7 linked regions of the Homo sapiens genome follow. The protein of the gene in region 2 purifies or fractionates together with the protein of the main gene of each other region. This does not show direct contact. Each region holds a gene or a part of one and is shown on either strand. Other genes may lie near its edges. The genes, in order: GAN, GOT1, ZNF185, STEAP4, NECAP2, PLG and GDA.

Evidence for each region.
Region 1: the proteins of GOT1 (region 2) and GAN purify together in Homo sapiens (affinity purification with mass spectrometry; one large-scale study listed by BioGRID and IntAct). This does not show direct contact.
Region 3: the proteins of GOT1 (region 2) and ZNF185 purify together in Homo sapiens (affinity purification with mass spectrometry; one large-scale study listed by BioGRID and IntAct). This does not show direct contact.
Region 4: the proteins of GOT1 (region 2) and STEAP4 purify together in Homo sapiens (affinity purification with mass spectrometry; one large-scale study listed by BioGRID and IntAct). This does not show direct contact.
Region 5: the proteins of GOT1 (region 2) and NECAP2 purify together in Homo sapiens (affinity purification with mass spectrometry; one large-scale study listed by BioGRID and IntAct). This does not show direct contact.
Region 6: the proteins of GOT1 (region 2) and PLG purify together in Homo sapiens (affinity purification with mass spectrometry; one large-scale study listed by BioGRID and IntAct). This does not show direct contact.
Region 7: the proteins of GOT1 (region 2) and GDA purify together in Homo sapiens (affinity purification with mass spectrometry; one large-scale study listed by BioGRID and IntAct). This does not show direct contact.

The regions. Positions count from the first base shown.
Region 1 is NC_000016.10:81,356,003-81,360,082, reverse strand, and holds part of GAN (gigaxonin), read right to left. Parts: intron 3,299-4,080; coding exon 3,081-3,298; intron 2,274-3,080; coding exon 2,152-2,273; intron 1-2,151. UniProt on the Homo sapiens protein: Probable cytoskeletal component that directly or indirectly plays an important role in neurofilament architecture.
Region 2 is NC_000010.11:99,409,944-99,414,023, forward strand, and holds part of GOT1 (aspartate aminotransferase, cytoplasmic), read right to left. Parts: intron 1-4,080. UniProt on the Homo sapiens protein: Biosynthesis of L-glutamate from L-aspartate or L-cysteine. Important regulator of levels of glutamate, the major excitatory neurotransmitter of the vertebrate central nervous system. Acts as a scavenger of glutamate in brain neuroprotection.
Region 3 is NC_000023.11:152,914,812-152,918,566, reverse strand, and holds part of ZNF185 (zinc finger protein 185), read right to left. Parts: coding exon 3,734-3,755; intron 3,430-3,733; coding exon 3,364-3,429; intron 1,437-3,363; coding exon 1,398-1,436; intron 1,283-1,397; coding exon 1,205-1,282; intron 725-1,204; exon of another isoform or gene 503-724; coding exon 413-502; intron 1-412. UniProt on the Homo sapiens protein: May be involved in the regulation of cellular proliferation and/or differentiation.
Region 4 is NC_000007.14:88,279,223-88,283,302, forward strand, and holds part of STEAP4 (metalloreductase STEAP4), read right to left. Parts: intron 3,947-4,080; coding exon 3,419-3,946; intron 1,858-3,418; coding exon 1,693-1,857; intron 407-1,692; coding exon 176-406; 3' UTR 1-175.
Region 5 is NC_000001.11:16,446,944-16,451,023, reverse strand, and holds part of NECAP2 (adaptin ear-binding coat-associated protein 2), read right to left. Parts: intron 3,155-4,080; coding exon 3,050-3,154; intron 2,965-3,049; coding exon 2,883-2,964; intron 1,932-2,882; coding exon 1,823-1,931; intron 900-1,822; coding exon of another isoform or gene 804-899; exon of another isoform or gene 783-803; intron 1-782. UniProt on the Homo sapiens protein: Involved in endocytosis.
Region 6 is NC_000006.12:160,704,969-160,709,048, reverse strand, and holds part of PLG (plasminogen isoform 1 precursor), read right to left. Parts: intron 2,643-4,080; coding exon 2,507-2,642; intron 1,350-2,506; coding exon 1,243-1,349; intron 1-1,242. UniProt on the Homo sapiens protein: Plasmin dissolves the fibrin of blood clots and acts as a proteolytic factor in a variety of other processes including embryonic development, tissue remodeling, tumor invasion, and inflammation. In ovulation, weakens the walls of the Graafian follicle.
Region 7 is NC_000009.12:72,246,780-72,250,859, reverse strand, and holds part of GDA (guanine deaminase), read right to left. Parts: intron 3,455-4,080; coding exon 3,427-3,454; intron 2,589-3,426; coding exon 2,518-2,588; 3' UTR 111-2,517; coding exon of another isoform or gene 22-110; 3' UTR 1-21. UniProt on the Homo sapiens protein: Catalyzes the hydrolytic deamination of guanine, producing xanthine and ammonia.

The sequences.
Region 1 (4,080 bases), on a different chromosome or scaffold from region 2:
CTGTCCATCCATCTATCCATCCATCCATCCATCCATCCATCCATCCATCCATCCATCCATCCATCCAACATATATCAAAAAAAGACATATTGTGTATATAGTAGCTACCCCTTATCTGAAGTTTTGGTTTCTGTGGTTTTATCACCCATGGTCAACTGCAGTCCGAAAATAGGTGAGTTCAGTAAAGTAAGATATTTTGAGAGAGACCACATTCACATAACTATTACAGTATATTGTTATCGTCGTTTTATTATCAGTTATTGTCGTTAATCTTTTACTGTGCTGAACTTAAACTTTATCATGGGTATGGATGTATAGTAAAAACACACAGTATGTACAGGGTTCAGCACTATCTGTGGTCTCAGACAACCACTCGGGGGTCTTGGAATGCATCCCTCATTGATAAGGGGGATCTACTGTACATATTTATTAGTGATAATGCATTTTAAAACTGTAAGAGTATGGAAAATGGAAAATGAAGAAAAACTCTCCTGAAGAGAACACAGGTACTGACTAACTTTGGACTTTGCTAACTTAATACAGGCTGTAATTTCTAAGGTAATCTTCCTAAAGGACTATTAACAAGAATGTAAGTCCCAAACTGGTAGAGAAGAAAAATTGAATGACAAAAAAACAGTCAAAATCAATTTTTAAAAAGGCAAAAAAAAAAAAAAAAACAATGCAGCCTGGACAAACGGAAGGACCTCCTCAATCACTCACTTCTGTTTCCATCAATTCCACTGTACACAGTCGCTCCTTCCATTGCTGGGTTTCTGAAACACCAATCCCTCTAGCAAACTTTCAAATATTAGTCATATAGGAGCCTTTGTGACAGACGTGTATGTGTGAAAATTAGGAATATGTGTATATATTTTGGGGGAAATGTAAGGGAGCTAATTCTGAGAAGATGCAACAGGGAAACTAGACCTACATCCTGCAGGCTATACTACTCTGTCCAGCTCTTCACTACTGACAATAACTAATAATTTTGGGACTCATAAAATGACTCCACTTCTATACTATGGTAGAGCCTTGGCCATTTGTATGATGCACTGTGGTACAGTATAGCTTTAAAAATATTATAGCCTGGGCAACATTGCAAGATCCCATCTCTAAAAAGAAAAATAAAATAAAAAATAAAATTTTAAAGATAATGTTGCTGGGCAAGCAAACACAATTAAATAAGGACTGCAGGAGGGCTGCTGACCACAATTAGGATGACATGAGATGACACTTATCAGGTGGACAAGGGAGCAGGACCACGGCGAAAAGACAGGCAGCCAGCAAAGGCAATGCCTCAATGGCTATCTTTTCTATCAGCTCCTTAAGGGAGAGCTTTGGATAAAGTAGAGCAGTTTTCAAACTTGTAAAGGTCAAGTAAAGCATTTTCCATACTAAATAACTTTAAGCCATTGCCTATATAAGTAGCATTTCCTAAAGTCTCATAACTTCTCTTTTTTTTTCTTTTTTTTTTGAGACAGGGTCTCACTCTGTCACCCAGGCTGGAATGCAGTGGTGTGATCTTGGCTCACAGCAGTCTCGATCTCCTGGGCTCAAGAGATTCTCCCACCTCAGCCTCCCAAGTAGCTGGGACCACAAGTGCATGCCACTATGCCTGGCTAATTTTTTTGATTTTTAGTAAAGACAGTTTCTCTCCTACATTGTCCAGGCTGGTCTTGAACTCCTAGGCTCCTCTCACTTTAGCCTCCTAAACTGCGGGGATTACAGGTGTGAGCCACCACACTCGGCCTTATATAACATATTTTATATAATTACATATTGTAATTCTAAGCTGCATGAATTTCAAAGATGGGACTACCATGGTGCAAAGAAACGCTGTGTTCCAGGTGTGGCCCTACAGCTACTTAGTGGTAAGCATCACTGAAGTTTGCTCTCCTGACATTAAGTCATCAAGTAACTGCTTCTCCAGTAGTTCTTAAAAGCAGCTATGTGCTGAAGATACAGAGATAATAAGGACTGACAGAAAATACGGTTTTCCTAACCACGGTCTCAGAAGCTAGAACTACACTAAAAATGTCATGTAGAGATAATAAAATTGTATCTTTAAAAGGCTCTGAGTCATTCTGTAAAACCTTGAGATTACACATTACTTGATCTGCTGTTTAAGGAAAATTTGCCACAGAACGGTACCTGCTGAGAGAACTCCATGGTTAATTCTCGGCATGCTTAAAGGGGCCAGTTCGATCCAAAGCTGCCTGTTAGGGTCATAGAGAGGGCACATGCATCGCATCGCTGCTGTGGGTTTCCGTGAACTAAGGAAGTAAATAAGTGATCAGTAGTTAATGTGCTTCATACAGTTCTTTTTATAAGTAGCCATCACTAGTTTTAGTTTACTAAAGAATATTTAAAACATTTTTTAAAAACCCTTGTGGAAGTCAGTGTGACGATTCCTCAGGGATCTAGAACTAGGAATGCCATTTGACCCAGCCATCCCATTACTGGGTATATACCCAAAGGACTATAAATCATGCTGCTATAAAGACACATGCACACGTATGTTTATTGCGGCACTATTCACAATAGCAAAGACTTGGAACCAACCCAAATGTCCAACATTGATAGACTGGATTAAGAAAATGTAGCACATATACACCATGGAATACTATGCAGCCATAAAAAAGGATGAGTTCATGTCCTTTGTAGGGACATGGATGAAATTGGAAATCATCATTCTCAGTAAACTATCGCAAGAACAAAAAACCAAACACCGCATATTCTCACTCATAGGTGGGAACTGAACAATGAGAACACATGGACACAGGAAGGGGAACATCACACTCTGGGGACTGTTGCGGGGTGGAGGGAGAGGGGAGGGATAGCTTTAGGAAATATATCTAATGCTAAATGATGAGTTAATGGGTGCAGCACACCAGCATGGCACATGTATACATATGTAACTAACCTGCACATTGTGCACATGTACCCTAAAACTTAAAGTATAAAAAAAAAAATCAAATGTAATTATGTTTTAGATACTGAAAAGCATTATGAATTCTTGTTTACATGGAACTACCTCTTCCCATACACCACTTTTCAAACAAGTCCCACCTCATACTTACACTCTCTCTTCTCCACCAACAGTCACGATGCACTCAGAGTAGCCCCGGGGTTTGAAGTTGGCCAGCATCGCCTCCCCTTGCTGCGGCTGGCTGAGCGGTATATTGCTACACTCTTTGACAATTTCTCGTACTAATGGTTCATTCAGCATCTGTTCCCGTAAATAACTGGAGTCCAACCCTGAAACCCACAGAGCTGACATAACATCCTTCATGTGGACCTGCAGAAGAGGGAAGAAAGATGGGGCGAAAACAATGGAAAATGCAACACATCATTTTTAGAATCTACATTTTCCACCTCATGGAAAACAAACTGTTAACACTCAGGTTATTACCAGGCAAGTGAGACACACTCGTGCTGCTTGAATATCTTCTCCTGGCCCTAACTGTCTACTTCCCAGAGTCTTGATAAGTAAAAGTTTAATTTTTAAAAATCATCAGTTTATTTGAGGTATCACTGTAAAAGTTTCAAGCAGCTTCCTTTACACCTTAAAGGATTCCCATTTCAATAGGAAAAGACAGGAAAAGAACCAGCTATAATTTGCTTTATTTCACACATTTGGATGTGCCATGAGTTAAATCATGTTTATACAAATATTATATACAGTAATAGCTCAATACAATATGGTAAACTTAGACATCAACATTAATAATACAAGAAAAATATACAAAAGCCAAAGTTTAAAAAAAAACCTGAGTACTATATAATCATTTTTGCAGTAATTACTGTTCAAAAATATCTAAGACGACTAATATGAATTTACACTTTTACTGCTCAATCACTAAATTTGAACTGACGAAAGTATTTTATAAATGTAAAATAAAACTGTGAGTTTTAAAAATCAACTGTCTTTACAGCATGAAGTTTAAACTGACCAAAGGACAAAGAACTGCCTCGTTTTCCCAGCAACCAGCCAACCTTAAGCATCTCCCTTGCTTTAAGGCAAGAAGAGGGCAGGACGGAAGCTGGCAAGGAGCAGCATGTCCCACTGTGGTCTTGGTG
Region 2 (4,080 bases):
AAAGAATACTATCTGAAATGTGAAACATAAGCAAAGTTGACATTCAAGGGGATGCAGAACTAAACATAGCTGTACATTACAGAGAGGGGCAAAGGCAGTGCACTGGGGTGAAAATGCTCAGTGTGTGTCAGATTTGGTGTGCTAACTACTCTGTTATTTACAGTGATCCTTACTGAGCACTCATCCCTTGCTATTACTTTAAAAGTTTTGCCCCCACATTGTGGTTTACCTGAATTCTTTATGCAAATTGCTACCAAGATGATATAACACAAATGTGCATTTATTTTTTATGGATTTGTCATCCAGCTAAGTTGAATGTCAGTTTCATACATGACTTCACATTGCAGATACCTAAGCCACTCTAGAGTGCTAATACTTCCTAAGCAAATGAGCAAGACCTCCCTTGAACATGGTTTTAACTTCTGGAAACACGATAGATGCATAGATACCAGTGGAAACATTCCCAGGCATAATTTTTCATTTCCTGTTCTCAACTTTTCACTCCACCCTTTCTCTCCCACTACAGAAAGCAAATTCATTTTTTTAAAAATCAGTAGAATACATTAAAAATGTGCTTAGAAGAGATAAACCCACTCCACATTAACTAATCCTTGACATTCATGACATATATGACACTTGAAATATCAAATTCTCAAGAAGTTATCACTCCCTAAAAATCTATTAAATACTGGATGGCTTCAGTGAAACACAAGTTGCTCTAAACATCAGCAACTAACAGAAACAAGTTTTTGGTGAATCAATAATATAGCAATGTGGTCATTCTGTGAACTGATTTTTGGCAAATTGTCCTACAGCCTAAGAATGTCCTGTACTTGTTATAAAGGAAAATCATAACATCAAAGGAAGTAAGTACAGACTTCTCAAGGAGCCAGGCAACTGGACCTGGGTAAACAAGAGTATCCAGAACAAGGGAAATCCAGGAAGACTTGGTATGAAGCTAGATAGAGCAGGCCTCTGTTGGACATGTCAGCATAAGATTGCTGGATTCTAGAACCCTTGTCTGAGATAACAATTTGCCGATACTATGACTTCACCATGAGGAATAGGAGAGCAACCAGGAGCTGCCTGTGGCCAGAGCCATGCTGCATTCATCTGGGTGCCCCCAGCATCTCTCACGGCATCTGGCACATGGTACTACATAAGCATGTGCTGAACTAGATGAAGAAAGAAGACAGTGGTGAAAAGATCTGAGCCACAGCAGAAGCCCCAAGTCGCCTAGAGGCAATCAAAGCGAGAGTGGGATGTCATGATGTGACAATGAGTTATGACCCATGAGCCCTCCTTCCTACAATGCTCAGTAATCTCAAAGCTGAAACAGCACTATGCCAGAGATGAAAAATCGACATTTCTGTCTGGATCCTAAGATCTGAAAGTGGAAAAGTAATACAAGGCAGTGAGGAGTCTAGAAAATAGGTCTCCTCAAAATGGGTAAAGGATCTGGAAATGTTGAATCTGGAGAAGAAAAATCTAAGGGAAGAAACAATTACTGTTGGTTTACTTGTTCACTCATTCTTTCATTTATGTCTCGTCTTTAAGTTTTGGCTCAAATGTCATTTCTATTTCTATCATAACCACCCTAGTTAAAACTGTATCCACTCCTAGAATTCCTAACATGCCACCTCCTGCTCCATTTTTATAGCATTTATCATCTTTAGTATACTACATCATTTTCTTACTGATATAGTCAAAAAGATTACATTTAGAGTCTGTTCCTCTCCCCGAAACTGAATGCAAGGGCAGGGGATTCTGTGTGTTTGAGTCACTGCTGTGCTCCAGCATCTAGAACAGTGCCTGGCTCTAGTAGTGGGCATCTGATGACTAAAGGAATGAATGAATCCAAACCTTTGGAACCTGAGGTACCCGGATAGGAGCCAAATGCTGAAAATCTGCAAGGTAAATAAGCAATGATCACTCTCCTGGGGAAAGTTAGGGCCTTGTGGGAGATGAAGACTTATAAAATTATCCATTATAGTAAGAACAGTTAAGTACTGTTATTCCCAAGCTGTGAACAAAGTCCTGTGATAACTCAGAGAGCTTAAACAACAAGCTCTGCCTAAAATACCTAAGGATTCAGTGTGGAAGTGACCCTTGATCAGCTCTTGAAGGACTTAGAGGTGGGGACTGGACAGCTAGAGCAATAAGGGAGGGCATTCCAAATGGAGAGAAGGGCCAGGCAAAGGTTCTTAGTCTTGACAGGGCCCAGTAGGTCTAGAGAACAGCAAGACTCTTAGAATGTCAGGACCTCTAGTGGAGTGAGGGGAAATCAGCAACTGTAAGAACAGGATGAAGACTGTCACCTGTCACCTACTTTCACTGCATGCCAAGCTCAAAGTCTGGATTTTACCCTACAGGCAATGGGGGAGCTATGGGCGGTGGGGGTGGGGAGTGGGAACAGGTGACATGAGTAGCTTGTTTTGCCAAGGAAGGTCATCCTAGCTGCAGCATGCAGAATGTACTAAAACAGGGAAGAGACTAGAGGCAGGAAGGTAAATTAAGAGGCTATTAGTGAACTAAGACAGCAGCCTGGGAATGGTGAGGCCTTCCAAGCAGAAGAAAGGCTCAGAGCTCGAACAAAAGGCAGCAGAAACCTCTGCAGACTTAAATGTCCCTGTCTGACAGCTTTGAAGAGAGTAGTGGTTCTCTCAGCACGGAGTTTCAGATCTAAGAACGGACAGCCTGCCTCCTCAAGTGGGTCCCTGACCCCTGAGTAGCCTAACTGGGAGGCACCCCCCAGTAGGGGCAGACTGATACCTCACATGGCCGGGTACCCCTCTGAGACGAAACTTCCAGAGGAACGATCAGGCAGCAACATTTGCTGTTCACCAATATTCCCCGTTCTGCAGCCTCCGCTGCTGATACCCAGGCAAACAAGGTCTGGAGTGGACCGCCAGCAAACTCCAACAGATCTGCAGCTGAGGGTCCTGACTGTTAAAAGGATAACTAACAAACAGAAAGGACATCCACACCAAAAACCCATCTGTACATCATCAGAGACCAAAGGTAGATAAAACCACAAAGATGGGGAAAAAACAGAGCAGAAAAACTGAAAATTCTAAAAATCAGAGTGCCTCTCCTCCTACAAAGGAATGCAGCTCCTCACCAGCAACGGAACAAAGCTGGATGGAGAATGACTTTGACGAGTTGAGAGAAGAAGGCTTCAGAAGATCAAACTTCTCTGAGCTAAAGGAGGAAGTTCGAACCCATCGCAAAGAAGTTAAAAACCTTGAAAAAAGATTAGACGAATGGCTAACTAGAATAACCAATGCAGAGAAGTACTTAAAGGACCTGATGGAGCTGAAAACCATGGCACGAGAACTACATGACGAATGCACAAGCTTCAGTAGCCGATTCGATCAACTGGAAGAAAGGGTATCAGTGATGGAAGATCAAATGAATGAAATGAAGTGAGAAGAGAAGTTTAGAGAAAAAAGAATAAAAAGAAACGAACAAAGCCTCCAAGAAATATGCGACTATGTGAAAAGACCAAATCTACATCTGATTGGTGTACCTGAAAGTGACGGGGAGAATGGAACCAAGTTGGAAAACACTCTGCAGGATATTATCCAGGAGAAGTTCCCCAACCTAGCAAGGCAGGCCAACATTCAAATTCAGGAAATACAGAGAATGCCATGAAGATACTCCTCAAAAACAGCAACTCCAAGACACATAATTGTCAGATTCACCAAAGTTGAAATGAAGGAAAAAATGTTAAAGGCAGCCAGAAAGAAAGGTCGGGTTACCCACAAAGGGAAGCCCGTCACACTAACAGCTGATCTCTCAGCAGAAACTCTACAAGCCAGAAGAGAGTGGGGGCCAATATTCAACATTCTTAAAGAAAAGAATTTTCAACCCAGAATTTCATATCCAGCCAAACTAAGCTTCATAAGTGAAGGAGAAATAAAATCCTTTACAGACAAGCAAATGCTGAGAGATTTTGTCACCACGAGGCCTGCCCTACAAGAGCTCCTGAAGGAAGCACTAAATATGGAAAGGAACAACCGGTACCAGCCACTGCAAAAACATGCCAAATTGTAAAGACCATCGAGGCTAGGAAGAAAC
Region 3 (3,755 bases), on a different chromosome or scaffold from region 2:
TCAGACTGACAGCAGCACCCTGAGGATCCCCAGGCCCCCAGCCCAGTGCAGCCAGGCAGAGCACCTGAGGCTCGGCCGGGTGCAGGGCCAAGCCCAGGAAGCACAGCCAGCCAGCAGCAGCCTCACGACCCATGACCCTTTCCCCAGATCCGTGGGGCCCCTCCTACAAGCTTCCTGCGGTCTCCGCTCTGCCTCGGATCAGACGTGCAATGTGCACAGCCATCCAGTTTTCTGGGGCTTGTTACCCTCTGGTGGGCTCCAGGCCACAGCTGCAACTGGCAGGGAGTGTCAGGCAGGCGGGACTTCCCGGGCTGTGCTCGGTGGCAAGTAGTCAGCTGCCTTCAGTGGACCCAGAGTTTGGACTTGTTCCTTGGAGGAGGGAACCACGCTGAGCCTGGCGTTGCATACTCACAGCTTCTTGTAATCCTCAGTGGTCATCTTGTAGCCAGAGGAGGAGGGGCGGGGAGGACCAGCGTTAGCTGTTCTCACCAGACTGGCAGCACTAGAGAGGAGAAGGTTCCATGTGTCTACCTGCAGGCTCCCTCCTGCCTCCAGATTTGGCCACACAGCCCAGTGGACACATGAGAGGTGGACCAGGAGCTGCCTGGGAGCCTTTCCTCTTTGCTTTTGGCCCTGACAGACACCCGGAACTGCGCCACTCAGAGCAGCTGTGTAGGCAAACCCCACCGAGCTTCAGGGAACAGCCCAGCGGGCTCTTGCCTGTGTCTTTGCTTCCTGTTTCCGGGTCCCCTTGGCCTTTCCAGTCTGACGGAGTCCCAGGCAATGCCTGATGCCAAGGTGCTTGAATTGCATGCAACTTCAGCCTTCTCAATGCCATCAGCAAGTCAAGTCAAGGGTGCCCACTGCCAGGCTAGGGGGACTCTACACCCAGCCCCTCCCAAACTCCTGCACCTCTCTGTCCCATTAGCCAGGCCTAGTCAGGACTGACCCCAGGACAAGGACACTGTTAGTGGCCCAGGACCTCCCAGAGACCCACACATCCACTTGGGACTGCCAGTCCCACCCCAGCCCATCTCCTCTGGTCACCCCACCCTGCTCTCCAGGGTCCTGCCCTACCCAGGATGAAAGCTGGCACCTCCAAGGCCCCACAGTCCTGATAGGCAGAGCACTGTCTCTGCCAGGAGCCCAGACCAGGCCCTCACACCTCCCCACTGGCCGACTGGCCAACACCCCATGGACATACCTTTTTGGAGTCCCGTTGGCCTTGGGGAACTGCTGCTGGGGCTGGGAAGAGCTGTCTATGGGCTTGGTGAACACTCCCCTGAAAGAGAGCCCAGGAGATGCCGGTGAGCTCCCTGGAGGGACTGGAGGGGTAAGAAGTCAGGGCTTGGCGTGAGTGGGCACAGGAAGGCCGGCAGAGTCCTGCGGTCACTTACCGGATGATGTAGCCAGTGGGAGCCCTTGTGCTCGGAGGCCTGCCGAAGAGAAGAAGGGGTGGAGTGAAGCGAGGCTTGCTGGAGGGCTGAGGTCATCCTACTTTATCCTGCCCTTAACGATAGCAAATAAGATTGGCTGGCAAGTGCTCCAGGTGTCCCAGTACAGCAGAAACGAGGGGTGCCAGCCCCCTGTGCCCCTGATCAGGTGCCCGCTATGCTCTGCCTATTTCCCTCATGCTCCCCCAGGAAAAGTGCCCCAGGTGACTCCTCATGGCAGGTGCCTAGGAAGGCAGCTTGATGGCCTCTCCAAAGTCCAGCTTCTCCTTGGCCAGCCAGTTCCCAGTGCTGCGCCGACGGAGCACTGCTCTCAGCTGACAGCCCTCCCATCCTCTGTGCTTGGGGCTGAACCAGTGCAAGCTGGAGGCTCCCCAGTCAGAGCCAGAGGCTTCCCCTCAGCCCGGGGTCTGACCTGATCTCCCTCAACAGCCTCCACCAGGAAGGTGCATGAGGGCTTGAAGGGGAGAGCCCAGGCAGCAGCCAGCCGAAGCCAGCTGTCCCCCTTCCTGTCCCTCGGGGCCCTCTTTGCTCCAGCTCCTTGCATGCCCACACCCCAAGTCTTGGTGGAAGTTTGAGACGAGAGGGCGCGGCCAGGCCTTGTTCAGCGGCTGGGAAACATTAGGCTCTGGGTGCTTGGGACCTCCTGCTTGGCAGCAACTGAGGGGGCTCAGATAACTCAGGGGGCAGCCAAGACGAGCGGGCAGGGAGCTGACAGCCAGGGGTGGTCAGCCTGGAAGTTCTGGCCTCCGGGCAGGAGTTAGGGGCCCCTGCAAAGAGTCCTCCTCAGAGTTAGGGGAGGAGTCAAGGGGTCAGGGTAGACCCTTCTGTCCTGCAGTGGAGGGGATGTGGGCTGGAGCATCGGGGTTTGGGTCAAGGGCAACACAGAGCCTCCGGTAGTCTCCAACCCCACAATCTCCATCTCTAACAGGGGACAGCCTCCCAGAGGTGGCCATGTTGCAGGCACACTTGGGGGTTCTCGCTTTTGTATTGAACTGTTTACTAGGGTCCTGCCTGAGTCCCCTGCTGGGACGTCAGTTGCCCAAAGACAGGGCCTTTGTCTTGACCACTCCTGCATCCTCTGTGCCCAGCATGGGACCTGGCAGGTAGTGGGCGCTGAGTCATCGAGGGGTGACAGAGAGACCGTAGTTACTAAAGGTAGCCCTGTGTGCTGGCTGTAAACTTGAGGCCCTCCCTTCCAGAGGCCGCCACTGCCTCTACCACCCCCTGAGAAGCCGCCTGCCGGCTGTTTGGAGCAAGGAGCGAGCCTGAATTTCAGTTCCCTTTCTCTGTCAGGAGCAGTTCCTCCAGAGGCCAGCAGGGTGTGCCCACGCTTCAGAGCCCCCCTAGACACTGTTATGGAAAAGCCCCCAAAAGAGAGAGAAGCCAGTTCTCCTTGGTCAGCTGACAAAATATGTCACGGTAAACTTGGGAGACAGTCAGAGCAAACTCGTGCCTCTCTACAGGCATGCTGAGTCCCAAGTACACTCAAGCAGTCAGGGTGACCTGCAGGAGTGAGTCACTGTGACTCTGGAAGCTGCCCAAAGCATCTCAGAGGCAGTATCACTCCCTGCAGGGAATGGGTGGGAGGTCGTCTTCTTCTTAAAGACAATTTCAATCCCAGTTAACAGCTGGAGCCACGGAGGCCCAGCAGGGAAGTCAGCTGCCCCACAGCCACACAGCCAGGCCAAGGGCCTGGACCAAGTGACTCCTACACTCCCCTTCCCAAAAGGAAGGTGCAGTGGAGAAGCCCCTCCTTCCTGCAGATTTCAAATTACTCATTGCAGACCCTTGGCTGGGGCTGCATCCCTGTCCCCTGTGGACTGCCCACCCCTCCCTGTTGAGGGCTGGCCCCAAGCTGCAGGAGAGTCCCTGGGGCTGACCCACCAGCCACCTGAGCACCACCTCTTACCTAGGCTTCGGAACCTCCCCAGCTGATGAAAAGGATGTGGCGCGACTCCGGCCTGAGGGCAGCTCTCTGGGGGAAAGAGGCATCCTGAAGGATTGGCTCCGAGACTCCCTGTCACCTGCCATCCTGTGGCCTCCATCCTAGAGGCTGCCCAGCAAGTCCTGCCATTTCTGCCACACATTCTCCTTCCCAGGCACCCAGGGGCTCTCCCACCCTGTGACATTGCTGGATAGCCTTTCCCACGCTCTGCCCTCCACATGGCCTGGCGGAGCTCTGAATGGTGGAAGCCCCTTCGCATCCCCAGGTATGGTCGGTCCCCCACGGATTGCGCGCCCCCACGTTGCTGCGGTCCCTCCCCGCCTCCTTGCCTTACATGGTGCGACCCTCCGATTCAT
Region 4 (4,080 bases), on a different chromosome or scaffold from region 2:
TCCAGTATGTCAGTCAATTTCTCAAAGACAAGCAATGTTTCCCTCAGTCACGGTGTAAGAAAAAAACTTTCCTAACTGTACCCATCATTCTTCTTTAAACATTCAAAACCATAGTTCAGAAATCCAGCTAAATTGAACTTTGTTTTAAATATTGATTTTCCATTCAATGCTTTTTCTAGTGTTTTGAGTTCCTTTCCCAGCCCTGGCGGATCCTTGTAAGGGTGTTGTCTACACATGGCATGATTAGGACAAACTTGATCACCAGCACAGTGCAAGGAATGATAAGCCCTAACACGTAGGCTGCAGGAAGATACCATCTGAGATTTGAAGGGCTGAGGAATCTCTTCCCACCGTACACCAGGGTGTGGGCTGTACACAAGATCAGGGTCAAATAACCCAGTTTGGACTATAAACAAGAAACAAAAATATGTAAGTTAACATTATTTACATCTTAAAGTGAAACACTCTAAGCCAGTGACAGATATTTGTCAACAACCACAAACATTTGAGACCTATAATGTTTAGGACACTTTGCCAAGTACTGAAAAAAAGCACTAACCCTTCTTCAGGATGGTAAATACTTCATTTAAAACAAGATTATTTCTTACAAATGACATAGTAGCTTCACCTTAACCTAGCTGGATGGAAAAGTTTCCCAGGAGTAAACTCTTCCAAGTTAGAATAAATAATGTAGCTTGTCTTGGTTCCCAAAGGTGAAACTCTTTTATTTATCATCTTTTCTAGAGGTCAGAGATGAATATGACACAGTATGACCTCAAGAAGCACCATCTTAGTATATGTTACTGACTAAAACCAGATCCTAGCTCATTTCTATCACAATAAAGAGCAATAGCCAATCTTGTTTCAGCCTACATTTTAAAGCTTATTGTTTATTTCTGCCTTAATACCTTGAACAAAACTGCTAATGAGAACATGTTGACTGCATTTGGTCCCTGGGAGAAATTGCAAGACTTAAGATTCCAATAGTTCTATAAAATTCTAACCTAATTTTAAAGACTAATGCTCTTTTCTATTATACTCATAATAAGCATGCATCAGAATCATCTTGAAGGCTCATTAAATTTCTGGGCCACAGGTTCAGAGTTTCTGATTCAGTAGGCCTGGGCATGGCCTGGGGCTTTGTGTATCTAACAAGTTTCCAGGTGATGCAGATGCTGCTGGTCCTGGTGCCATATTTTGAGGACCACTGGTCTACAAGAATGTGTAGTTACTAACTGCCTTTAAAGAGGGGTTGGTTGGTGCTTGACATGTGGAAGAAAACAATTTTCCCTCTTACAGAAGAGCATTAAGTCTTCCGGTGTGATGACATCTATCAAATCTTGCTGTGAAGATTTTAAACTTTATCTCAACATCTGGTTTTCCATATCTGTATGTCCATGTTGTAAGGTTAATTTTTTAGATGGTGAAATTTTGTCTTGGGGTTTCTTTTTGCCTTGTACCTAGTACATCTCCACACATAAATTGTAATAGTTCTTAGTATTTTTCACCCTATAGTCTTAGCTGTAGATATGGAGGCAGTCAGGAATCTTGGCGAGTATTAAGAAATCAAATCATTATGGATTCTGCCTTTTGTACCTGGGTTCAACATTTTCTAATTTGAATTTTTAAATATGATTGCTAGGGAAGTGATGGAGCAAAATGAAAAGTTAGGAATGAACTTGAAGTTCTTACCTGGACAAATCGGAACTCTCTCCAGTTGACTGCATTGCTAACAGATGGCAAAGAAGTGATTCCCAAGAGTACAAACAGAAAAAACCCAAGTATTCCCAAAGCCACATATGAATCACTGAGCCAGGCTGAGGAGGTGCTAAATGGATTCTCCTTCTTGAGTATTGCCTAAGAAAAATTATAAGCAATTACAAAACTACATTTTTACAAACTACATTTTACAAACTGCCCACACTTTGACAGTGGGCACAAATTATTTGCTCAAAGCAAATTGTATGGCATTTCTTAAAAATTATTTTAAAATAACTTTAGTGAAAAATACACTTAGAAATTATATTTTTTGGCAAAAAAAGTAATTGGTTCTGTTTGGACTTGATTCTAGGAGTTGTGTAGAAAGTTTCGATTTTCCCTGTAAATTCTAAAAGACAGTAAACACTCACTTAAACCTTCATTACCATCTGCATTTTGTTCCCCAAGCAAAACTTGATGTTCTCAAACAATTACATCAGAATTCTGTTTTTCTGCTTTATATGTGGATTACTCACACTCTCAAAGTGGGTTCTTTCATGTTTATTATACATGATAATAAATACATCATAATATAATACATCAGTCTTGCACCACAAGTTGAGAGGAATCAGACACTTGTAGTGTGACTCTTACCCAGGAAACTTACATGTATTTGTTGGGAAAATAATGTAGAGAAACCCATAGAAGCATCATTAATGACTAACTAATAATTTTTGAGACTGAAGTAAGATCTATCAAAACTAGCTATTTCTAAACTAGAACTGACTTATAGCACTTCCTCTGAGAATGTCTTAAAACTCCTTCAGCTGATTCTCACTGAATCTTTTGATTATGCATAAGACAATATTTGATATTTGCTCAGAATTATTTGGTTTTCTAGTTATTGAGGTCAACTTCCCCCAAGTCAAACATTAAGGGAATTATAAGCGCTCTTTTGTGAATTTGTTTGCTTTAGTGTGGCACATATTTGGTTAGCCCTCTTACTTAAAAGATGGTTGGTTTTGACTTCCAAAAGGAAGTAACATGCCTAAGAATAGAAGCTTGAAAACACACTAGTTAACATTTGACTGCCAACCAAAGGAATTCAAGTAGGTGTCTTTAGGTTTCTTGAGCCATGAAATCTGTCAGTTTGCCAATATCTCTATGAGCCCTGGGAATACAGATCTGGACCCAAGCGAACCTGGAAAGTATCATTTTTTTTCTTTCTTTTTTTTTTTTTCTTTTTGAGATGGAGTCTTGCTCTGTCACCCAGGCTGGAGTGCAGTGGCACGATCTCGGCTCACTGCAACCTCTGCCTCCTGGGTTCAAGCGATTCTCCTGCCTCAGCCTCCTGGGTAGCTGGGATTAGAGGTACCCGCCACCATGCCCAGCTAATTTTTGTATTTTTAGTAGAGATGGGGTTTCACCATGTTGGCCAGGATGGTCTTGATCTCTTGACCACATGATTCACCTGCCTCGGAATCCCAAAGTGCTGGGATTATGGGAGTGAGCCACCGCCCCCGGCAAACTTTTATTCTTAATAGTTGTATGAGATCTAAACTGGATTCATTTTAAAAAACTGACATGACATTTCTAATTCTAGTTACTTTAAAAAAGAAGATGCTTAGAAGAGTGACTTTCTATAATTATGAAATGGAATATGATGTAGCAATAGTCTCTGATTTCAGGAGCAGAAGAAAATATATAAGAAGAGATTTACCTGGGTAACGGTTAAGTTTCCCAATCTCCATCGTACATAATATCGAATAGGAATCACAAGTGTGTAGAGGACATGAAGGAAGGCAAATCCCAGAGCTACCAAGCCAAGCTGCTTTCGGCAAAGCATCCAGTGGTCAAGCCAGTCTGGGAATCGACGGTATTTTGTGCCTCGGTACAGTTGTAGAATGGCAGCAATAACACCAGGGAGGTAAACCAAAGCAAGCAGTGTAAGTGCTGTTATTGGAAAGATACGATTTGGAATGGAAATAGCCATACGAAATGTATTATCTTTCTTTTCATAAACATAAGGGTAGATTACGTCTCTTATAACACAATAGAAAAACAAGAAGACACACAGCACAGCAGACAAATAGAAGGGGAACCTCCACATTGGAAATAGCTGCAGGGGGTACTTTTCAATTTCTTTGGCTGCCATGAGTGATCCTTGATCCATTGGAGTAAGTCCAAGATTACGAACAATATCCATCACTCTTTGCTTGGCTTTGCTGTCATTTCCACACACAAACACCTAGTTTAAAAACAGTTAATTAATTCTGTATTTACTCCTTTTCCTTATTTAATAATTATTTTGAAAGGCTACAACAGCACCATGCCAAATGATGACGTAAAACAGTGAACCGATTTTAAAATAAGGATGTAGAA
Region 5 (4,080 bases), on a different chromosome or scaffold from region 2:
GCTGACAATCTTTTGCATCTTGAGCAAGGTGCAAGTTTATAAATTGGGTGTTTTGTTTTGTTTTGTTTTTTGAGCCAGAGTTTCGCTCTTGTTGTCCAGGCTGGAGTGCAATGAATGGCTCGATCTCAGCTCACTGCAACCTCCACCTCCCAGGTTCAAGCCAATTCTCCTGCCTCAGCCCCCGGAGTAGCTGGGATTACAGCCATGGACCACCATGCCCGGCTAATTTTGTATTTTTAGTAGAGACAGGGTTTGTCCATGTTGGTCAGGCTGGTCTCGGACTCCCGACCTCAGGTGATCCGCCCACCTCAGCCTCCCAAAGTGCTGGGATTACAGGCGTGAGCCACCACTCCCAGCCTATAGATTAGATTTTTTAAATTTCACAGAGTTCTGCATTTATGATTTGTACACTTTTTTACATGCACATTATACTTCAAGAAAATGCTTTAAAAAAAAAACTGAGCACCAAGCATGAGCCAGAAAGCAGCACAAGTTACACAGATGAAGATAATGTGTTCCCTACTTGTAAGGAAAGCAGCAGCTTAATAAAATCGTAAGTCCAGCCCTGAAGTCAAAAGACCTCAAAGACCTCAGTGTGAGCACAGCTGTGCCAGTTATTTCTAGCTCTGTGACCCTGGGCAAGTCCCCAACCCTCCCTAAGCCTCCATTTCCTCATCTCATGGAGGAAAGGGAGAGGATGTTTAATTCACATGAGAAATGCCTAAAAAAAAAAAACAACAAAACAAAACAAAAAACAAAACAAAACAAAAAAAAACCACTACCTGGCCCTCAGCTGATGCTCATTAAATGTTAGTTTCCTCCAAGCGAGAGAAAGAATCACATCCCAACCAGTCCACTGGATTGGACTTGCATTTCTCTCTTAAGGGCCAGCTGGCCAACTTCAAGGATCCCAAATCATCACCAGCACGAAGCAGAAAAGAGGAGAAAGAGTAAGTAAAGAGGAAAAGCATTATTTTAGAGTTACAAAGCTTCTTGAAAAAACAAATCCATCTCAACACAGTATTCCTAGCAAAAACAAAAACCAATCCACTTGGTCCTTGGGTCCCCGCAATCATGACTCTGACCTCATCTCCCCTCTCCACCCTTGCAGCCAGGTAAAGGCCAACTTTAGGCAACCCAGCCCAGCCCAGCCCAGCCCAACCTGTTCCTATGAACAGGAGCTGACGGGAGGGAAGCCAGAGGCAGAGCAGCTCAGAACGAAGACACAGGAGCCAGGACAACACCATCAGCACAAGCTGCCCAGGACTCCCAGCGCCCACCTCAACGCCCTCCTGCCAGAACTCTCCCAAATCTTCCTTATTCAAGACACAGCCTGGGATGAGCACACAGGTCCCTCCTGATGCACTCTAATAGCTAGGACAGAAACACCACCTCTGGCAGCAAATGACTGATGCTCCTTCTCAGTTCAGAGGCTTTGCACCTGCTGTTCCTCTGTGTGAACCACTCTTTGATCACTCTTCCCTTGCCTACAGGTCCCTTCTTCCAGGAAGCCTTCCTTGGTTCCCACAACTATGGGCTGCACACCCTTCCTCTAGGAGCCCACGGCACCCAGGGCATCCCTTAGTCATGGAACCTTTCCTGCCATGTTGTTATCACATTTTTACCTGCCTGTCTCAGCTCAACTCTGAGCTCCATGAGAACAGAGGTCTCTTGTTCACCCCGATGCAGGACCTGGCACAAGGCAGATGCTCACTAAACATCTGCTGAACTGAAGGAGCTGAACTGTAAGAAGAGCAATGGGCTCTGGGGCTGGGTGGCCACAAGTATCACGTCACCACAGCCAAGCAAGGGTAGAACTCACTGCGATGTTGAGCTTGATGGTCTGGCCCTCCTTGAAGCCCAGGTCCAGTTTAGGGCCTTGGTCTGGGTTCTGGGCTTGTTTTGCAAATTCACACTGCTGTTTCACCCACCTGGGGAGAGAACATGAGGAAAAAGGTGAGGAAGGAAGAGACCAGCTGCCCTGCAATCACTGGCTCACTTCACTACTGCCTGCTATCAGTCCAGGCTGAGCCTCGTAGTGAGACGGGGTGCTGGAAAGAGTGCAGGCTTGGGAGTGAGGCCTGAATTCAAATCCCAATCTGACACTTAAGTAGCGGCATGCACATTGGTTTCCTCATCAGCAAAATATGCCCACAATTCTATAGGTTTTCAAGATGGCTACGAATGCAGCGAGATCACTTACGTAGAGGGTCCTAACACTATCTCTAGGACACGTGAGAGCCTGCCCTTCCCTCTACAGTATATGACATGAGAACTAAGATGCGGTCTCTACACACCCTCAAACACTCAGAAGGCAGACGGGGGGACAAGACAGATACCCAAAAGTAGAGGGCAACACAAAAGTCCCCCACCCTCCATACCACACCACCCAGCAGCACCGGTAAGGGAAGAGCCAGAGGCGCCCATGTGAGTGGCCGGGCACAGCCCACTCACTGGCAGCCTGAGTTCGAGCCCTGCAGATGGTGGAGGAGGACTTCCTGCCCTGTCTCTTAGCTTCAGAAAAGGACATCAGGGCATCTGCTGGGTGCCCTGGGAATCCAAGCGCCATTGATTACATGGAGGAGCAGGCCCAGAAAGGCCACAGGAGCCTGATGAGGACTCTGGCTGCTCAGGGGACTGGTAAGGGGAGACAGGTGGCAGGCCCGAAGGCTGGGATGGTAGAGATGAGCCTCAGGTAAAAGAGAAGGCTTTACAGCAGAGATGAACATTGGCAGAGAAGAGAGGTGGCTTGTCCTGGGTTCTCCTGAGTCTCTGCTGCCAGACAAATCACACACAAACACTTGGGTATCCTAACCTGGGAGATCATTCTGTCCAGGGAAAGAAGGGAGGGGCATGAGCGTGTGTCTCCCAGACCCACTCACTTGAAATGGTCCTGCAATGCAACATTGAAGTCAAAGGCATCACCTCGGTCCCCGAAGCCAATTCCAATAAACGCCCGTCGCCCTGGGGAACAACACATGATCAACCCACCTTCCAAAGGCAGAGAAAACCTTTCCCAAGAGGAGGAAGCACCAGGACCCATGCCTACCATTTCCATCTTCGATGCGGATCACGAAGTACCTGCTGGAATCCGTCACACTCTCCACAGCTGTGCCAGGAAACTGATCCACCGGGGCCTGAGCAAAGAGCTCCCCTGAAAGCACAGGTTAGGCTGAGCGCTGAGCCCTGAGCCCCCTTCCAGCCAAGGTTTTCTACCACACTACTGGGCCTTTTGCCCGCAAGGCATCTCTAACCAGCTGAGACAGATCGGCAAACCTTACTGTGGGATTCAAATCGAATCCATTCTTGCTAAAGGGAAGACACAGAAAATATAATCAAGGAAAGGCTTAAGTCAGAGAGCTTACAGGTCAAATTTAGCTCACAGTTTGGTATTCTGCCTGGCCTCTCTTAAAATTAAGCTTTATTAATGCTGAGCCTCCAAGCCCACCTGAGAATAAGTTGGAGCTGCTAGCCCATCCATTCCATCTGCTTTACCCACTTATATTACCTGAACCCTGAGTGTCCTAGAACAGGTGAACCCTGGCCTAGGTAATCACACCTGCTGAAGAGGCTAGTACCTGAGGCAGGACTATAAGAGGGGCCAGTGAGCCCCGAGGAAAGAAGGGAGGAAGTTTTCATACCCATAGGGAATCTGAAGCAGGCTGATTTAATTCAATCTGAGACAGGGCAAGCGTGACTAGCTTTAAAAGCCCTTGTGAAACACATCACCTTGTCAACTACAGCACTCGACAGTGCGGCACAACATAAAATTTCCACAAGCATTTATGACTGGCATCAGTTTTTCCCATGTGCTGACGTCTGTTGTTGCTTTTAGTATTTTTTGTTTTGTTTTTTAGAAACAGGGTCATGGAGTGGGTATGGTCCCAGCACTTTGGGAGGCTGAAGTGGGGTGCGTTGCTTGAGCCCAGGAATTTGATTTATACCTTTTTTTTTTTTTTTTCCTGAGATGGAGTCTCCCTCTGTCACCCAGGCTGGAGTGCAGCGGCGCAATCTCGGCTCACTGCAACCTCCGCCTCCCAGGTTCAAGTGATTCTCCTGCCTCAGCCTCCCAAGTAGCTG
Region 6 (4,080 bases), on a different chromosome or scaffold from region 2:
GTTAACAATTTACAAATGACATATTTAAATGTTAGCATTTTGTAGAGAGAATCAGGAGAATCAGGGTTTTTTTTTTTTAAAATCTGGTACAATTAGGTGATCCTATTTAGTTTACCGTTTGCTTGCTACTTGTAAGAACTAATAACTTCACCAGATAAAGTTTAGATTTAATCTGCACTTTAATCTCAAGAATTCGAGATAAATAGTGGTAAGGAAGGAAGTACAATGCGTACAGCTAATGAAACCCAGGAAGATGAGTCAATGCATAGAAATAATTCCAACCCAAATAAATACTATTTAAAATGCTACTTAGAGTTTTGCCGTAATACTAGACACAATATGGCAAATCATCCTCAAGAATACAAGAACTAAGGTGTTTCCAGTCCTCTTTAACACCTGGGATGCAGAATGTTTGGAGAGCTAAATTGTTACTATTAACAGTCTTAATACCTGGCTACCAACACAGTAGAGGAAACAGTTTTTAAAGTGTCATGCATCCCTTCAAATATTTATACTTGATGGGATATGCTTAATGGGAGCATACTTGATGGGATATACTTGATGGGAAATGCTTAATGAAACATTTGCACATCTAAAAAGGCATGCAATTTCTATTGAAATCCTGTCTGCCTCTTATTCTAAGCAGTGGGACTATTGACCCACATTTTAAAATAAACTATAGAAAAGGAACTGTAACTTTTACACATTTTTAAAAGACAACATTTCAGAAATCTGAGAAAAATATAGACCATGTCCCCCAAAATGTGAAAAATTTAAGAGTAAAAATAAGATTTGTGTCCCAATCTAAATGTTTCTGAGGATTAAAACACCTCAGTATTTCTGTTTTACAAGGCTTCATCCAGATGTTAGGGCCCAAGGACCATGGTCACCCTGCAGAATAAGAAGCCAAGACCAAAAGGAATGCTTAGACTTCCCATCTCCTTGTTAAATATAAAATAATATTTTAAAAATCTTATTTTCAGGGTCATAGAGGTAGAAGTGATTTTGTAAATCTAATCCTTTCATCTTTTGAACAAAAAAAATTAAATCTAAGAGGTGAAGTAATACACTCAAGCTGACATGGTTAGTTAGTAATCAAATCCTGTCCTAACTCAGAATTCAGTTTTATAACACGATAGTGCCTTCCTCCTCTGGTCTTATAAATTAAAGATAGAATAGAGAAAGAGGAAGAGTGGGAGGATGGGGAGGACAGTAGGAGGAGGAGGAAGAAAATGTACTCACCTTTCTTTTCAAATAAAACTACATCTCTCATCCTAATGATTATGGAGGACTTCCTGTTTTCAGCCATTATCACACATTGTTGCTCTTTACTGTGATATTGGAATGCCCTGCAGAACGAAGCAGGAAATCCAATAAGTATTTTTCTTTATTTAAAGAAAACAAATGTTTATTAATAAGTGAGACATGCTAAAGATCATTGAATATCTTGAGGGACCAGAGAGCTCAGAATTGCTGCCTCTTTCAGTTATTTGGGCATGGCATCGATGAAGTACTGAACAAAATACACCAACGTGGCAGCAAATCTTATCTGCCCTTACCTTCCCTCCCTCATAATTTTCCCTTTCTTCCTGTTTCAACTGCTTTACTTCTTCTTCACTCATCTTCTTAATTTTTGTTTTTGGGTTGGAAAGAAGCAACTCTGGTTGCTTTGAACCCATTCGCCAAGATAGTCCGTCTCCATGACCTCCCAACTCTGATCAGTTCCCCTGAACCTCTGCTCCACATTCCACCCCACCCTGGCCCCTGACCCCTCCCATCTCCATCCCGTGGTCCTGCTATGGGTGCTCAGTCTGGATTCCATAGCTACCTTCCCAAGCCCGTCACCTACACAAAGTCTCTGCTTTAGTCAACTTCATCTCTTAATGGTCCCCCTCAGAAGGTGCAGGGCCGCATCTTCCCCTGCCTTCCTGGTGCTTGTCAAGAGCTCTCTCAACTCCAAACCCAGCTCAGTTCCCACCTCCTCCCTGAGCCTTCTCTAGCTGCCTCAACCTTAGGCACTGTTCTTTCTTCTGGATCTGGGTAGAGCATGCATTGATTATGCCTGTACCTCACTTGGGCTGTCTTTTTTTTTTTTTTAACATTATATCCAGTTTCTTTGACTACACCTTAAATACTAAAGGGCAGGCACTGGATCTTGTAGCTATAAGTCATTGCTCAGATCTATCTAGGACACTTTCATTCACCTGATCCTCAACAAACATTTACTGATGATGATGTTGAAAACTGGAGCTCAGAACAATAACTGCTAATGTTTGTGTCCGGTGTAAAAACAAATAACTTCCTTTGAGGGTATTTTTCTAACAAAGACTCCAATAAACCTTAACAAGAAGCTGTTAGTATGGCTTCACATACTGTGAGCAAATATAGTTCCAAACTCTGGCTCCATAAATTTCTCTTTCCTCTTAAATCATTAATAAATTTGTGAGTAAATTACTTGCCATCTGAATTACAGATTCCTGCGTAGGTGCAACGACAATGGAAATACCTGCAGGTGAATTCTTCGTCCTCCTCACATTTTGCTGCACATTCTTCTATACTTCCTGCTCCCAGCTGCTTCTTAGTGACACTGAACAGTGAAGCCCCCTGGGTATTCACATAGTCATCCAGAGGCTCTCCTTGACCTAGAGGTGGGAGATCCAAGTGGAATAAATGGTCAGTAAATCAATGTCAATGTCTAATTGTCATGACTTCCTTTTAATCTATTTGGTTAGCATTAACCAAATAAAACTTTCTGTTTACTGGAAGTAGAATGGGTAGCTATGAATCAAAATGTTTAGTTAAGAACACACAGTCGGGCATTTGGACATAAATAAAGATGGCAACTAAAGACACTGGGGACTACCAGAGAAGGGAGAGAGGGAGCAAGGCAAGGGCTGAAAAACTACCTATTTAGTAGGTATTTAGCTCACTACCTGGGTGATGGGATCATTTGTACCCCAAAGCTCAGTGTCACGCAATTTAGTTATGTAACACACCTGCACATGTACCCCTGACTCTAAAAGTTGAAATTATAAAACAAAGAAAAACAGTTTCATTAGCAGATTGCAAGATAGTAAAAGATTAACTGGATTGACAAACAGGTTAGAACTATGGAACCACTACTATGTTACCATATTAGTGGATATAAATCCTTAAACAAGAACAAATTTTATGTTTGCTATTGATTGTGCCATGTCATGAGAGAAGAGTAAGGCACCATCAGTGGCAGTTGTGTTACCAAGATTGATGTTGATTTGTTCATCCCTGGGTAGAAATGGAACTTGGAGGCCATTGTTTGATTTCCTACAATATGCGCTTTGGTTCTGGCACTGTCACTTGAACCGGTGGGAAGCATCCTCTGAATGGTCCCTCCTTGAGAAACATAAATTTTGGTGCATAGATGATGGTGGAAATAAACAAGAACTGAACTAAATTATGTTGCCACCTTGGACAAAAATTGGGCAAAACACTGGAGGGTAAGAAGCTCCCCAACAAAGAAGGCCATTTTTGTACTGGGCTTATGACAGTCACACAACACTACTAATTGGGGAGAAGTCAGTTTTTCCAAGGTGTTGACAGGTATCTGGATTTCGGAGGAAATTGTAAAAAAGCAGGACCTGGGACAAATACTGGTCTTGGTTTTTCTTTGAGATCAAATCTGAGACAACGAATCTGTCCGAAAGCTGCTTTCTGCCTGGTCGTGGCAGAGGGTGGCCAAGGGGGCCTCAGCTGTGCTCCCACCACAAGGCTACAGGGTGTCCCCTTGTCCTGAGGCTCTTCCAGACATCTGGCTGAGCTTTGGTAGCTCTATTCCAAGCCTGGAGATGCCAGCTCCGTCCTTGGCACAGAATGCTAGTGATTTGCACAAGGGTGAGAGGCCAAAAGAGGCTAATAAAATGAAGACAGGCAAGCTCCATGGAATTAGACAACAGGACAACCTTGACCACTTTGAGGGGCGTGGTGGGGGCCGCAGGCAGAGGGGGTGGGTTACAGAGTGACTAGGAGAGCAGTGGAGGCTGCAGCAGGAGACAAGCCTGGCTCTGAAGACAGCGAGCCCTCCAGGGAACATGCGGTCAGGGG
Region 7 (4,080 bases), on a different chromosome or scaffold from region 2:
CTTTTGAATTGTTTTTACCTTTCAAAGTGTATTCCGTTGAAAATACCATGGAACATTAAGGAAATGGTGGAGGATGGGGTGAGGAGGCTGGTAAGTGAATTGTTTCTTTCCTGTCAGAGAGCAAGATATTAAAACAAAAAGTGACAAATAAGATTGGCTTGGAAAAGTGCCTCTCCACAATTCAGAAAGTCAACCTACATTAGGCAAAGGCAACATTTCAAAGTGCAGAAAATCTGGCCCCAGGTATAGATAATGCCTGTGGTACAGAAAAAAAAGCATACATAACATTCAGGAACACCGCACTTGGAGAAATAAAACACATAAGTTATAAGTGATGTGGAGAGATCAAAGTACATATAAATATTTCAACACATCCTATTTTTACTAGGAAAGATATTCAGGTCTTAACACACTATCAGAGCTAAATTTAAATGTTTAACAGGATGGTTGTATACGGCCATTCCTACTGCTTCTGATGCTACACTTATTTATATTTACTGCACATGAGTCCTAAGTCTACATGAAAACTGATGTTCAACATCAAAATGTACACCCTTAAAGAAGGTAAAAGTGTAGGATCTTGCAAATGCTAGAAGCAGCTACTGCCTGTAAGTGAATCTTACACATCTCATCTAAATTCCTAAGCCTGCTCATTTGGTTAGACACCATGTAATCAAGTTCCTTTGGCAGGGGTTGAGTGATAAAGCTGAAGATTTTTGCTAGCCCCGTAGAGAAATGGGGAGAAATTTGGCAAGGCATCTTTGACGTGGCTCAGGAATTAGAAATATTGGAAATACAGACTAAGACTGGAAATTGGGTTTACTAAGATACTTATCTCACAAAACAAACTCTGTTGTTTATTAAAAAAATAAAACTAACTTTTGTTCCCTCTTTAGGTGTCATGTATACATAATCAAATCTAAAAGTATTTCTATTAGGGAAAAAACTGGGCCAATTACTGCTAAATTAGCTAAGTATGTGAAAATAAAATTTATACTACAGGAGGGGGAACTGTGTTTTTTTGTTCTGTAAATACGGAGTTAGCTATATTACATAAAGTTTCTACTATAAGGTAATATTAAAGAGTCACCCCTAAGCTCTAGGAATGAGTGTTATAATATATTAAGAAAGTCTATTCCTTTTCCTTGCTCATTTATAGTATTTGTAATTAAATAAGAAAAATATAGAATTTAAATAACATTCACACCAATACTTAAAGATTTATCATAAGGTCATAATTTGGTTTTAATTCTAGGTTATGGAAGCATAAAAATAGTCTTTGCTTTGTAATGTTCCTAGATGTCTAGTAAGAATTAAGTCCTATTAACATAAATATTAAGTAGGACATTATGTACTCTTCATTATCCTAAAATTTTAATATCCTAAACATTATAAGGAGTTAAACAGAAAACTGGATAAAATTAGAAAATAGAGTGCTTTCAATACACAGGGTTTAAAGATTTTTAACAATATTTCTTTAACAGGATTTGTCCTTCATTTTAAAGTTCTAGCAGACTGATATCTGAGTATGGAATTTCCAGAAACTACAACATATTGTTTGGGTGGAATAGGCCATGGCAATGGAACCTGTCCTGTTAGTATTGGCGGCTCCTGGATGCCAGCATTTGCCCCAGTTCACGAAGACTCCAGTCTACATAAATTCCATAAAGCATGGAATTTGTTTCTCTTCTAATAAAATGGAAGCAATAACATCTCACAGTTATAAGTTGATTTTAAAGTACACAAAAATACAACTATTTATGCCATGGAGTTACATGAATAATATTCCTAAGAGACTTTAAATCTTTAATACCCAACTTCTGTCAAACACTTTGAAGCACAAAACTATATTATGAAAGCATGTGGCATTCAATTTCTGACATTCATCGCCAAAGAAGGCAAAGCACAACACTAACACATCTCTGAAATGCAAATTCCATTAAGTGCAAATTTCTAAAACACAAGGTCAACCTAGAAACACGTTTTAAATTTCAACAAGTTCTCTTTTTAAATTAGTATGCTCAGTATATAATTTTCAAACACAATCTGAAGTGATTTTCTAACGTTTGTTCTCAGTCTAACTTTTGCTCCCTCATAAAAATATACTCTCATGGGTCCATTTTCAGTCTTCTAATTTTTGCAATTATTAGCTCAAAATATCTAACCTTTTAGGAACATCTTTTCTTTCCACATTTTCAAATATGAAAAAGGCTTTGCTTAAGTCTTACCGTAGGAACACCACCAGTAATAGCATTCCCTTCTGTTTGAGCTTAAAGTAAGTCTGAGCAGCTCCAAAGGGAGATATTTTCATGAAATTTATGAACCCTCTCAACCAGAGTTGAGAATTAGTGCAACTTCCTTCGAACTATTTGTCAAGTGAATACTGTAACTAGACACAGAAAGGGATAGTCATCCCAAGAACAAGGTACTATTTTTTGACTTTCTAACTCCACCTGGGCACAAGGGAGATGCAGAACCACGCTAATCCCAGGAGAACTTTGTAGACGCCCGAGGGTCTTACACTGAGCTGGAAAACGGAACCACCTGCTTTCCGCCCACATAAACCTCTTCAATATTTCGATCATCTCCTGAAAGAAAAATCAAGGAATCATGTATAAAATCCTTTTGTGTCAATAAGTATCTTCCTTGCCATTGGGAGAGATTTTTTTTAAAGATACTTCTAGGAGAGGAAATACTAAAAGCTGCTTTCCCCCAACCCTCAGATTGTTTATAATCTGAACAGGAAGATATGACTAGTAGAAAATGCCATAGCTAATTTGATGATTAGGGTCTGAATTCTGCACCAGAGGCAGAAATCACATAAAGTTGAATCAACCCCCTATAGCTGTCCTTTCTCAGCTGAAGTGGTTGGTTTACATTTTGCCCCCACTGAGAAAGAAATACTACTCTTTACGCTCCAGAATCAGCTCCACAAGAAGTAACACATGCATCTTTCCATCTTGAGTTCACTCAGTCCTGGGCTCACTGAACAGAATGGGAGGCAGTGTAGAATATTCTGCATTACTGTTTCTCTCTCTCTCAGTGAATGGAATTGAATGTGAGTACATCACCAGCACGTGTGGTGAGACTCTACTATACATTTGTCACAAAAACATGGCAGGGCAGTATGTCAGATACCGAATGAGTACAAGAGGGTTGAACATGAAGATCTCTTCACCTTTGGCCTTCCATTCCTCAGCTTAGAATTTATGACTAGAGGGAGTCATGTGCATTTCAAATAGAACCTTTAAATAATGTGCCACCAATGGGCTTGATGCTTCAGACTGTTAAAAAAATAATGAATCAAAGCAAATTATCATCCACAGAGTTTAATATATGGTAGGATAAATACATAGAGCCATACCCAAGAAAAAGACAGGGAAAGGTTCTATTTAATATTTAGCATAGAGACATGCATCTACCTACCTAGATAGAGGAACTTCTGGATAACAGCCTAAAATGGAAAATAAAAGTAATAAGAAAGACTCATTTGTGCATTTAGAAAAGTAAATTCACAGCTGATAGTGGTTGACAAAGCCCAGAAATACGAATTTGTTTCTCAATGGCAAAATCTACTTCTATTAATTAAAAAAGAAGTGGCTATGTGCTTTATAAAAACCTCCCAGAACAAAAAATAACCCACTGGCAATTAACAGAAGTTTACCTATTGTGTGAAAGTTCTGGGTATGTGAATTTTGAGTCATCAGAGAAAAGGTATTATATAAATTAAAGAAATTAATTTAGTAAAATAATTCAAATATTTCAAGACGGGTATGATGTAAGACAAGCTCATCCAACCTGCCTTATTTTGTTGTTGTTGTTCTGTTTTGTTATGTTTTGTTTTAGGCTTTTAGCAGCCTGAAGCCATGGTTTTTAGTTTCTGTCTCTACTGATAAGCAGAAAAGAGGGATGAGGGAGGGGGCTTTACTGGCACAACCTGAAACAGAAACTAAGAACTCCCTTGGACACCCCTGATATAAGAAAAATCACTAGGACTATTCCCTAGAGCCCTATTCTTAGAAATTTACTCTAATCAGAGAGTAAAAGAATAAGCAATATGAAAATAATGAGGGGGTCAGG